2 linked regions of the Homo sapiens genome follow. The protein of the gene in region 1 interacts with the protein of each later gene in a pairwise test. Each region holds a gene or a part of one and is shown on either strand. Other genes may lie near its edges. The genes, in order: SHOX and SOX5.

Region 1 (4,592 bases):
GTGAAACCCCATTGCTACTAAAAATACAAAAATGAGCCGGGCGCGGTGGTGCAGGTGACTGTCATCCCAGCTACTCGGGAGGCTGAGGCAGGAGAGTCGCTTGAACCCGGGAGGCGGAGGTCGCGGTGAGCCGAGATCGCGCCCCTGCACTCCTCCGGCCTGGGCGACAGAGCGAGACTCAGTCTCAAAAAAAAAAATAAATTAATTAATTAAAGAAAGTGGAGAATTAGCAGCTCTGACTTGATTCAAATCAGGGCTTTTTCCTCTGTTTTTTTTGCCACCTTCTGGGGGGACGTTGGCTGAGAAGCGGGGAGGTAGGTTTCAGTAAAGGAAGGGGATGGGATACAAGCAAAAGTCAATGGTACCTCCCGATCTAAGGCTGGGGGGCAACACTGGGTACCCACCCTGGAAATGCACGGAGCAGAACAACACTCTGTGTTCAGCCACGGCCGACTCAGGATTTTTTTTTTTTTTTTTTTTTTCCAATAAGCCTGTCCTCAGGGGAGAGGTTGAGAATTTTTTTTTTTTTAACACTTGAATACAAATATTTATAAGTTTATTTATATCTCAGTTTTACAAGATGTACATTCATACTACGGGGCGTCACAAAAATACAGTCTGTTGCTGCAACTCAACATTGAGATTATTGAACGTTAGGAGAATGAGGGCGTCACCAGAGAAACTCAGGGTGGTTTTTTTTGGTTTTTTTTTCTGTTTGTTTGTTTGTTTTTTTTCTACCCCTCACCGCCTGCCGACAATAACAGAGGGATAGAAATGTGAAGACTGTTGGTTTGGGAAACGGTGTGTGATTTGTTTTCATCTGAAGCAATCCCTGAAAATATCTGTAGATGTATTTGTAACCCGGACGCGGGGGCCGCTATGTCGTCAATGGGGGAGGGAAAAAGAAAAAGCAACAGTTTTCAGAAATATAAAAATAAATGCAACGCGATGTCAAATTTACACTCGACATAATTAAAATAGTACATATTTATGAACGTCCGACCAAGGAAAAAAAAATAAATAACAAATGCACATACATCACAAAGTAAGAAGCAGGGGCTTTTGCCTCCTTCCCACGGGACCTGCACGTACAATGGGCTGAACTCGTGAAGCCACATCCCCTTTCAATAAATAGCACATTTCATAGCTTTGAAACGGGATATTGTCTACATTCCTTAACCGGCTTCTCATTAAATATCAAATTTCAATAAAACATTTATAAATGGCATCAACTTACCCACGTGTGTCGAAGAATATCAGCATATACTCGCTAAGCTAATTCTCTTTAATAAATTAGGCACCAGTTTTTTTTTTTTTTTTTTTTTTTTTTTAATGTCAAACGTGTCCACCGAAAGCCTCTCTCCTCCCCAGACCTCCCAAAGCTGGAGGAGACAAGCGGCTTCCAGCAAAGTGCCTCCGAAATGTGTGTCGTGGGAGTGGCTGCCGTGTGCCATCCTCGCTATGTCCCCGGGAAAACTGTGGAGCTAAAGGGAGCTGGAGGCTTCTGCTTGTTCTTAGGGGAAAACAAATGTTAGAAAGGTCAGCATGAAACCCAGAGGCGAGGACAGAGGACTCTGGTATTTCCCTTTCATCCTGACCAGAGCTTGGCACCAAAACCTGAAACCCGTCTCGGCTTCATTTCGGTTAAACGCCCAGCTGTCCCCAGACTCTGCGGTATCCACAGATGCTCCCACGTGCTGACGTGGCCAAGGACAGCAGCAAGACCAGAACAGAAACTCAGGCTTCCAAGGAAATGGGACCATTTCGGGGGCCTGGCTGGACTTTGGCGGGATGGAGAGGCCATTCCTACGACAGGGCGTCTTTGGAGCGGCCCAAAGGCCTCCTTCCCGTACGGGAGACACCAAGCCCGTCGCACCACCAGCTTTGTAAGTGGAAAAACGGGTGTTGGACGCGGTCAGTTACGCTCTAAATCGTACAGAGGCACAGAATCTGTCCCATCTCTTTATCCACGGCGCTGGAGAAGACAGCCACAGCCAAGGGGCCCTGTCACCACTGCCTGTGAAACAACACCCCAACGGCCACCAGAGAAGGTGCATTTTTCTAACTCTTGGCAATTGCCAGGAACACACCTTTGCAAAGTATGCACCAGTCAGAGACTCGAACGGAGAAAGAAAATCTAATAGCAACATCCGATACATCCAATTCCTTCTCCCTGTGGGTGCTTCGCAGTCAGAGAGAGAGAAAAGAGAGAGAAAAGTGGATATGTCAGAAACAGATTTCACCAGAACAGCCACTCAAAGGAAGAAGTGTTTTTTGCTCAACTGCGGCGACTGACAACCCTCCACGGACTATTTGGCCAAGTTTTGGGGAGAGGAGGGAAGAAAATACGTATCAATCAGGACCCAACCCAGCATCGTTCAGTTCGGCCAGCAACGTGTTCCTATCAGTGTGCTGGAGCTGGTACGGATCTCACACACCAAATCCTCTCTCTGCAACGGCGTTACATCGGAACACAGCCCACGTTGCTCTCTGGGTGGTATTCCTTGCTCTGCGAGCGAGCTCACCGGGAAGCCACAGGGAAAGCAGGAACGTGACTTTCAAAAGAACCTTGTTTTGAGCAAAAAGCACCAAGAATCGCCAGCGTACACCCACCCCATAAATTCAATTTCTCACCTCCTGTGGAGAGACGTATGTTGTTTCCATGCTGAATGTTCACGCAAACGTGTCTCTGGAGGGCCTTCCGGGAAACCAAACCCACGCACATCACATACAGAGGGTCCCCATCAGCCCAGTCCTTCCTAAACATCTCAGAAAAAGAGAGAGGAGGCCGGGCGCGGTGCCTCACCCCGTAATCCCAGCACTCTGGGAGGCTGAGGCGGGTGGATCATGTGAGGTCAGGAGTTCAAGACCAGCCTGGCCAACATGGCGAAACCCGGTCTCTACTAAAAAATACAAAAATTATCCGGGAATGGTGGTGGGTGCCTGTCATCCCAGCTACTTGGGAGGCTGAGGCAGGAGAATTTCTTGAAGCCAGGAGGTAGAGGATGCAGTGAGCTGGGATTGCACCACTGCACTCCAGCCTGGGTGACAGAGTGAGACTTCATCGAAGAAAGAAAGAAGAAAGAAAAAGAAAGAAAGAAAAAGAAAGAAAGAAACAAAAAAGGAAAAGAGAAAGAAAAAGAGAGAAAGATAAAAAGGAAAGAAACAGAAAGAAAGAAAAGAAAGAAAGAGAGAAAGAAAGAAAAAGAAAGAAAGGAAGGAAGGAAGGAAGGAGAAGGGAGAGAGAAGAGGGCGTTGGTGGTGAGAACTGGTCACAGCCCAAGCTGAATTTCTTACTTCCTTCCATCCGAGAGTTTCAGGGAGAAAGAAGCAGCTAGCATACACGTACCCCACACTCATTCAGGGATCACTCATCCACCTACAGAAAGTCACCCAACTTCTCTCGCAGGAGAAAAGCCAAAGGCAGCCAGTGTCCACAGACACTCGTGTCCCACCCTCACAGTTCTCTGCGTTTGATCTGCTTCGGGGACCCATTTGTGAGGATGACACTTGGCCCTCTTTCCATATTAAATCAAACTGAAACCGTCCCCGCACAGTTGAGAGTCAGTAACTCCCTTTTAAAAGTTCAGATTCAGGCCAGGTGCGGTGGCTCACGCCTGTAATCCCAGCACTTTGCGAGGGACAAAGCGGGCAGGTCAACCTGAGGTCAGGAGTTTGAGACCAGCCGGGCCAACACAGCAAAAACCTGTCTCTACCAAAAATGCAAAAAAATTACCCAGGCCTGGTGGCAGGTGCCTGTAATCCCAGCTACTCGGGAGGCTGAAACCCTGTCTCTACTAAAACTACCAGAAAGTTACCCAGGCCTGGTGGCAGGTGCCTGTAATCCCAGCTACTCAGGAGGCCGAAACCCTGTCTGTACTAAAAATACCAGAAAGTTACCCAGGCCTGGTGGCAGGTGCCTGTAATCCCAGCTACTCGGGAGGCTGAAACCCTGTCTCTACTAAAAATACCAGAAAGTTACCCAGGCCTGGTGGCAGGTGCCTGTAATCCCAGCTACTCAGGAGGCCGAAACCCTGTCTCTACTAAAAATACCAGAAAGTTACCCAGGCCTGGTGGCAGGTGCCTGTAATCCCAGCTACTCGGGAGGCCGAAACCCTGTCTCTACTAAAAATACCAGAAAGTTACCCAGGCCTGGTGGCAGGTGCCTGTAATCCCAGCTACTCGGGAGGCCGAAACCCTGTCTCTACTAAAAATACCAGAAAGTTACCCAGGCCTGGTGGCAGGTGCCTGTAATCCCAGCTACTCGGGAGGCTGAAACCCTGTCTGTACTAAAAATACCAGAAAGTTACCCAGGCCTGGTGGCAGGTGCCTGTAATCCCAGCTACTCGGGAGGCCGAAACCCTGTCTCTACTAAAAATACCAGAAAGTTACCCAGGCCTGGTGGCAGGTGCCTGTAATCCCAGCTACTCGGGAGGCTGAAACCCTGTCTCTACTAAAAATACCAGAAAGTTACCCAGGCCTGGTGGCAGGTGCCTGTAATCCCAGCTACTCGGGAGGCCGAAACCCTGTCTCTACTAAAAATACCAGAAAGTTACCCAGGCCTGGTGGCAGGTGCCTGTAATCCCAGCTAC
Region 2 (7,298 bases), on another chromosome or scaffold:
ATAGATAAAGTCCTCTAAAGAAAATAATTGCTTATTTTGTGGTGGATAGCAAGGAAGTTAAAAACAGGCTCTTTTTCCCTCTTTCCCCTCATGCACAGACTTCCATCTTTAAAGTAGAGAGATGGAGAAGGTGGAGAGAAGTAAAGAGAAATTCATTTTTCTTTTTTTTCTGTCAGGTGCATTACAAAGAAAAAAAATGAAAGGAAAGAAAAAGAAAAGGAAAAAACCCAGAAACCCCAAAAAACAAAACAAAACTTTTTTCTTTTTAAAAATTGTAGCACAAAACAACAAAACACATTCACAAGCCACTTGTTGGCACTGTGTACCTGAGTGAGAATTTCTAGAACATTGTAGAACAAACAGCCATAAAGTTTATTTAAAAAAAAAAAAAAGTTGACGGGTAAGACTTCAGTGCTTGGATGTAGCAGCTGAATTACTGGCATTATTTTACCCATAGCTTATTTCAATCTCTTGTTGTTGATATTGTTGTTTGCTTGTTGTATTTGTTTTTTCTTTCCAAGCCTTTTGAGGCTGAGGTCTATTAGTCAGCTGATGTCCCAACTATTTAAGACTAACAGTTAAAGTAACAGTCAGTGTATGAGAAAGTTAATGTGCTTGGCCACTGGTAAGGATGAACCAGTTAGGGCTTCTTTAAGTCCTAAGGTCACAACAATCTTTTGACCCTTATCAGTTGGCTTGTCCTGCAATATGGTTTTCACTGTCACTCCCATAATCTACATCTGGATCATCCTCTTCCTCGTCGTACTCATCATAAATTTCTCCATTGATGTCCTCGGCCTGTATCTCTTCTTTGATATGTGGCTCCTCTCCTTTCACACCGTAAGTGCTCTGGATAACAGGCATCCCAGGCTCTGGGCTGCTAGACACGCTTGAGTGCTCCGAGGGCAGGTGAGGGGAGGGCATCCCAGCCATGGCGATGGCTCCAGGGTACACAACACCAGCAGTGGCAATGGGGATCTGTGCTTGTTGCCTGTCAAGAAAGGAATTTCCAAAAAGACATCGTGGGTAAGTGAATAGTTAGATGTGGACTTTACTACATAATTAATTTGCTCAGCAATGTCCAATTCTAAGGTACTAATTTTATCTAATTGCCTAACATTTTTCAAACTCCATCCTACTTGAACTTTAATACCTTGTTTTTCTTTTCTTTTCTTTTTTTTTTTTTTTTTTTGAGATGACGTAGTTTCGCTCCTGTTGCCTAGGCTGCAGTGCAATGGCGTGATCTTGCCTCACTGCAACCTCCCCCTCCAGGGTTCAAGCGATTCTCCTGCCTCAGCCCCCCAAGTAGCTGGGAATACAGGCGCCTGCCACCACACCTGGCTAGCTTTTGTATTTTTAGTACAGACGGGGTTTCACCATGTTGGCCAGGCTGGTCTTGAACTCCTGACCTCAGGTGATCCACCTGCCTCGGCCTCCCAAAGTGTTGGGATTACAGGCGTGAGCCACCGCACCAGGCCTAATACCTTATGTTTAGGTAGTGCTTTATAGAGTACAAGATATTGACATGTGTTGTCCATCTTATTCTTAATCCTGTTTGTTACTACTGTTTTATTAAAAAACTGAGGTGCAGAAAGATGAAGCAGAAGAACCCAGGTCCTTGATTCCAAGTTCATTTTTCTTTCATTATAACATGCAGAAATAGTATTTTTCCCTAGAATTAAATCTAAAGATAATTAAATTTTAATGGGAAAATCCTAAAGCATTAGAGTTCTCAAAATAAAACTTTACTGCCCAGAACACACCAGAACTGAACAAATTCACACTGTCCACTGAGTCTCTGAAACAGTTCTGGCCTCGTAGTGGTAGGAAGCAGGAGCAGCTTCATGGATGTACAAACTGTGCAACTGCACTAAGGTCCCATACTTGGTTTAAAGTTGTGCTGCCACAGACTTGAAATTCTTAATAACTTTTTAACAAGAGACCCTGTCTCCTCATTTTTGCATCTGGTCCTATAAATAATGTAGGTGGTCCTATTGGAAAGGATGAATAGATGATGTGCATTTATGCTTGTTTTTATTCATTCGTATGTTTACTATTTGCCCAAGAACTGTTGGGCATTGTGTTTAGCTTTGTGAGGAGTCATGTGCTTGCATATGAATCACAGACCACTGGACAGAGCATGCAGCCTCTTCCAAGGAACTGGAGGGGACAGAGCAGATTTGGAAAGGTTTTATGAGTCCTTCTCTGCCCATATTTAGAACAATATTTATTATTCTAAGAAGCTCTTAGAAACTAACTTCTGTTTCAAATATGAACAACTTTATTTTGGGTTTTTGAGAGAATTCTATAGAAGCAATGCATTTCTGTAGCCCATCTACAGCACTGTCAACAACCTTGCCACGGGAGCATTGTAAAACATCTCGGAGCTGCGTTCTCAATTCAGAATGAAACCTCCTGTTCCCAACCTTGTTACACCCTAAATATAATCCCTAGCTTGTGTGATCCACAAAGGCCACACATGTACCTTGATAGCTCACTAACCTCTCTATATTTAGAAATAAGTATTTTTGCTTTTGAAATGATTTTTATTTTGTATTGTCTCAACAAAGTTGTTAGTTTTAGAATTTATCATGGTGAAGCTTAGGAAGTAATGCAAACCAATGAAGAAAAGAACCAGTTATACTTCTAAGTTTTTAATAGAAAACTTCAAAATCATTTGCTTGTAGATATCTTGTTTTTAAACCAGTTGTTAACAAATCTCATGGTAGAGCTAGGAACTTGCAGTGGATTCATATGGACATATTTTTCAAGATCATGTGGGAGACTATTTGTCTCTGAAAATACTGTGAGCTCAGATTCTTTTTCAAAATGTCTTTTTGCAACTGAACAAATATGTTTCACATCCCATTAAGTATAACAGGAAGTTTGCCCCATGAGAAAAATGACTAAAAGGTACATACCCAACATTGAAGTACTGCCGCATTTCCTGCCGCCTGTTGCGCATGATTGCCTTGTATTCACCAATGCGCAGCTTTTTGCCATCCACCAGGCAGGTGCGCTTTGGCCTGGGCTTGTACTTATAGTCAGGGTACTTCTCCAGGTGCTGCTTGCTGAGACGGGCTTGCTCCTCATAATATGGCTGTTTCTCTAGGTTTGTCATAGCTTTCCAGCGAGATCCTATGAAGAAAGGAGGTTAGGATTCCAATTTGCACAGCTTCTAAGCATTCCAGAAAGTGATATGGCTGAGAACAAGAAAATCTAAAGTTGAGATGTTAGCCAAAACCCAGAAATACATAAACCTGTTTTTGATTAGTGAGATCCCACAAGAACAGAGGTGGTGGTGGTTTTGTACCTAAAGATATAAACACTGGGCAGTATTTTTTTTTTTCTGGTTTGCATTCTAGCCAAACTTTTGTATTATGTCCCTTAAAGCTCATAGATAATTTAATGGATACATTTCTCATTTCTACATTAGATCATGATATAATTCACATGTGAACAGAAAAGTTACATGATATGTTATCATGCATTTTGAATCTGAGACTAATTATCTAGTTATTGAATATTTTTATGTGGGAGATGTTTTTTACTACAAAAGTTCCCAACATATATCATGTAGTCTCATCCTCCCCAAAATGTTTAAGTATTTTAAGCTTACAGGAATGGTAGTAATTAAAAATTCCTTTGATTAAACATTTAATTATAATTAAAATTATAATATTAATAAACATGGAGTGGGTAACTACTATGTGCCAGACACTGTGCTGAAACCTTGACATACTGATGTCTTTTTCCTACCTTTCACCTCAATCTTATAAAAGAGACAGCATTTCTATCTATTTTCATAGATGAGAAAATTGAGATTCAAATAGATGGACTAACTTAGCCAGGGTCATAATTACTGAAGTACAGATCTGTGACTCAAACTCAGATTTGATATAACTTAAATTGTGCTATAATGTATGCCCTTTCCTACATATGGCCACCTACTATACAAAATATAGCAGAGGTCACAATTACTGTAAATGCGTATTACGATTTTCTCTTAATAAATCAATTTCAATAACATACAAAGACGTCACTTCCCATGATACAGTCTGCTTTAGTAATAATAACCCAAATTGTTTTCCCCCTTTCTTTTCACTATTAATTTTGGTGTGAATTTAGCTGGGATTAAAAAAGACAAGTTTGAAGCTTAAATAAAAATAGTTTATGCTAATTCACATTTTAGATATGGTTTAAAACTTGGATTCTGTCAGTATGGCTATGTGTAATAGAAGTGGTAATGTGTCCGGAATTGGTGGGTTCTTGATCTCACTGACTTCAAGAATGAAGCTGCGGACCCTCGCGGTGAGTGTTACAGTTCTCAAAGGCGGTGTGTCCGGAGTTTGTTCCTTCTGATGTTCGGATTGAGAGGTGACAGCGTGCTGGCAGCCCTCAGTAGTAATAGCGTTTTTTTTTTTTTAATAGTGATTTAAAAATCTATTTGCAGATGAAGTGTGTTTATCTGCAAATAGTCATCTCAACTCAACGCGAATGCACAAAGACCGATAAACTGGAACTAGGATATCCCTACCAAATGGCCTTATACCTGCCTTCAAATGTCATCTAAGTAAGATCTTAGAATCTTTCGAATGAGTTCATTACTCACCCGTAACTCCCTATCTTAAATGCAAATAGCTCACTGTTGAATAGTTCTTCCTTACACATGTAAAGAGTTCCTCAATATGGGCTGTTACATTTATTAAAGCATACAGTGAAAGAGGCAATATCTCTTCCCTTAGAAATGTTACCATTGGAAGAGATATTGTATTGCATAGGTATAAATATAGATTTTTCCAAATCTAGAAAGCCAATGTGAATTTATTCTATTTACAGTATAAACTCAGGTTACAGTGCAAATAATAGAGTTTCTTTTTCTATTCCTTTCGTAAACTTCTGTTTAAATAGCATCATCCAACATTAGGTTGGTTGGTCAAGCCATATCATTTGTAGGGACAATCTCAAACTCCTTGTTGGCCCAGCATTATTCTCTGAAGATACTTGAATACCATTATGTTATTCTCAGGGCCTATATAAACACAGATATGGTTATGATCCTATTGAACTAGAACAACCGTTTTCATTGAGTTTCTTCCAAGCATTTATACCAGTTTTTTGAACTTCAGATCAGGGAGTGGAAAGTGAGCTTACCATAAATAACTCACAAATAGGAATACACTGATAAATGGATCAAGGATGGTTGATCTAATATAAAATTTATTAGCTAGCTTTATCCCAAAATTCGAAAACGAAACCAGCATTTTCTTTTTTTTTTTTTTTTTTTGAGACAGAGTCTTGCTCTTTCGCCCAGGCTGGAATGCAGTGGTGTGATCTCGGCTCACTGCAAGCTCCACCTCCCGGATTCACGCCATTCTCCTGCCTCAGCCTCCCGAGTAGCTGGGACTACAGGCGCCCGCCACCACGCCCGGCTAGCTTTTTTTTTTGTATTTTTAGTGGAGATGGGGTTTCACCGTGTTAGCCAGGATGGTGTCAATCTCCTGATCTCGTGATCTGCCCGGTTCGGCCTCCCAAAGTGCCGGGATTACAGGTGTGAGCCACCACTCCTGGCCAAGCATTTTCAATTAGAAGGGGAATTGCCAAAGATTCTTCCCTAAGTTTAAATGATCTATACGCCAAAAGGCTTTGGCCTCTCAAAGGAAAGAAAATGTTTATGCTTAGAAGTAATCTGCCTTGGAATGCGAGAGCTGTTTGTTTGTATATTTCCTACTATGTACATAATGTTGCATTCATTCCTTAATAAATATATAGTAGTGAGTGAATACAGAAAGTTATAGTTCCTGTCTCTTTGCAGCTTATATTCAGTCAGGGAATATACATTAAATATCTAATTACAAAATTTATTATTTTCCTTATAGTTGTAGAAAGTACAGGAAGGTAAGAGAATATGATGAGGCAAGATCAATCCTCTGCAGGTCAGGAAGGCTTTGCTGTAGAAATGACTCCCGTGGGGCTCACAAAGAGAAGAGCATCCTATTGAGGAAGAATATAATAGTTGAGGTCTTTCGGTGGAAAGAGGAGTTAGACTAACTTAAAGAAAGCTGGTCTGGCTTAAAAAAAAAAAAAAAGAGGAAAAAAAGATGCGTGTATGTAAAGAAATGGGATAATAAAAGATGTGTAAATTCTCAGATAAGTTGGCTTCCAAATCTGGCATGAACGGGAATTATAAAATAGTTTAACTCTTGATAGTATAATTTCTTTGAGAGTATCACTGAATCCTAAATTACACTTTAAAATATGGCCATATAATAATTCCAAGTCTTTTCAAAACTAAGAATAAAGATAGGCTAAGTACTAACCGGGTCAAATGGCTGACTGACTACTATATTTTATGACAGTACAGGGCAGTGTTTCCATTTGGTGGTAAATCCAGTTTTCATTTTCAAAATAGTAACCTTGAATTAGCTTAACCAACTGACAAGTTTGGTTTTGATTTCAATGGCTTTGCAGGTACTATAACCATTGTATGCAGCTGAGGTGTTAACTAACCCCTGAAACATACTTGATGAGAATGGCAGGAAAATATTTTGGATAAACAACAATAAAAAAAAAAAAAGAGAGAAAAAATATCTACTTGATTTGGGGGTGGCTGGCTGCTTACTCTGGACTGATGTACAGGGAGTTTATTCATTCCCTGCTGCTTTCAAAAGGTTGTCGTTTTAGAATAAAAAAGCAGAGAAGGAGGGATAGCATTAGGAGATATACCTAACGCTAAATGACGAGTTAATGGGTACAGCACACCAGCATGGCACATGTATACATATGTAACTAACCTGCACATGGTGGACATGTACCCTAAAACTTAAAGTATAATAATAATAATAATAATAATAATAATAATAATAATAATAAAAAGCAGAGAAGGACAATTGGGTTTTCCTCCTGATGACAAAAGAGGAAGTTTCAATCAAAAGTATTTGATGCTCAAAATAGGGGAAAAAATAAGGTCCAACGATTATTCCTTTCCTTTCTAAATCTGGCAATACACTGAAAGTGAAGAGTTTGCGCTGGGCAACATTGTCATCTCCGTGGGGTCTGTAGTGAATTTGCACATTTTACTCCAACTAAACTACTGTATATCTAATCAGAAAAAGATGTCCCTCTTCCCCTGATCTAGCGCCAAGCAGTAAAAGGTGATTCCTTATGTTAACAATTTCAGCAGAATGGCTTATTAAAACCAGATTTTAGGGTATTATAAAATGCTTAGAAGCCCTTTAAAATGTCAACTACGATCCCCAGAGACTACGTAAAATGTCAACCCAGCTCAAGCGCCTGTT

Evidence for each region.
Region 2: the proteins of SHOX (region 1) and SOX5 interact in a two-hybrid assay, tested with the Homo sapiens proteins (one study listed by IntAct).

The regions. Positions count from the first base shown.
Region 1 is NC_000023.11:647,532-652,123, reverse strand, and holds the end of SHOX (short stature homeobox protein), read right to left. Parts: 3' UTR 540-4,592; downstream 1-539. UniProt on the Homo sapiens protein: Controls fundamental aspects of growth and development.
Region 2 is NC_000012.12:23,533,532-23,540,829, forward strand, and holds part of SOX5 (transcription factor SOX-5), read right to left. Parts: intron 3,139-7,298; coding exon 2,922-3,138; intron 992-2,921; coding exon 688-991; 3' UTR 1-687.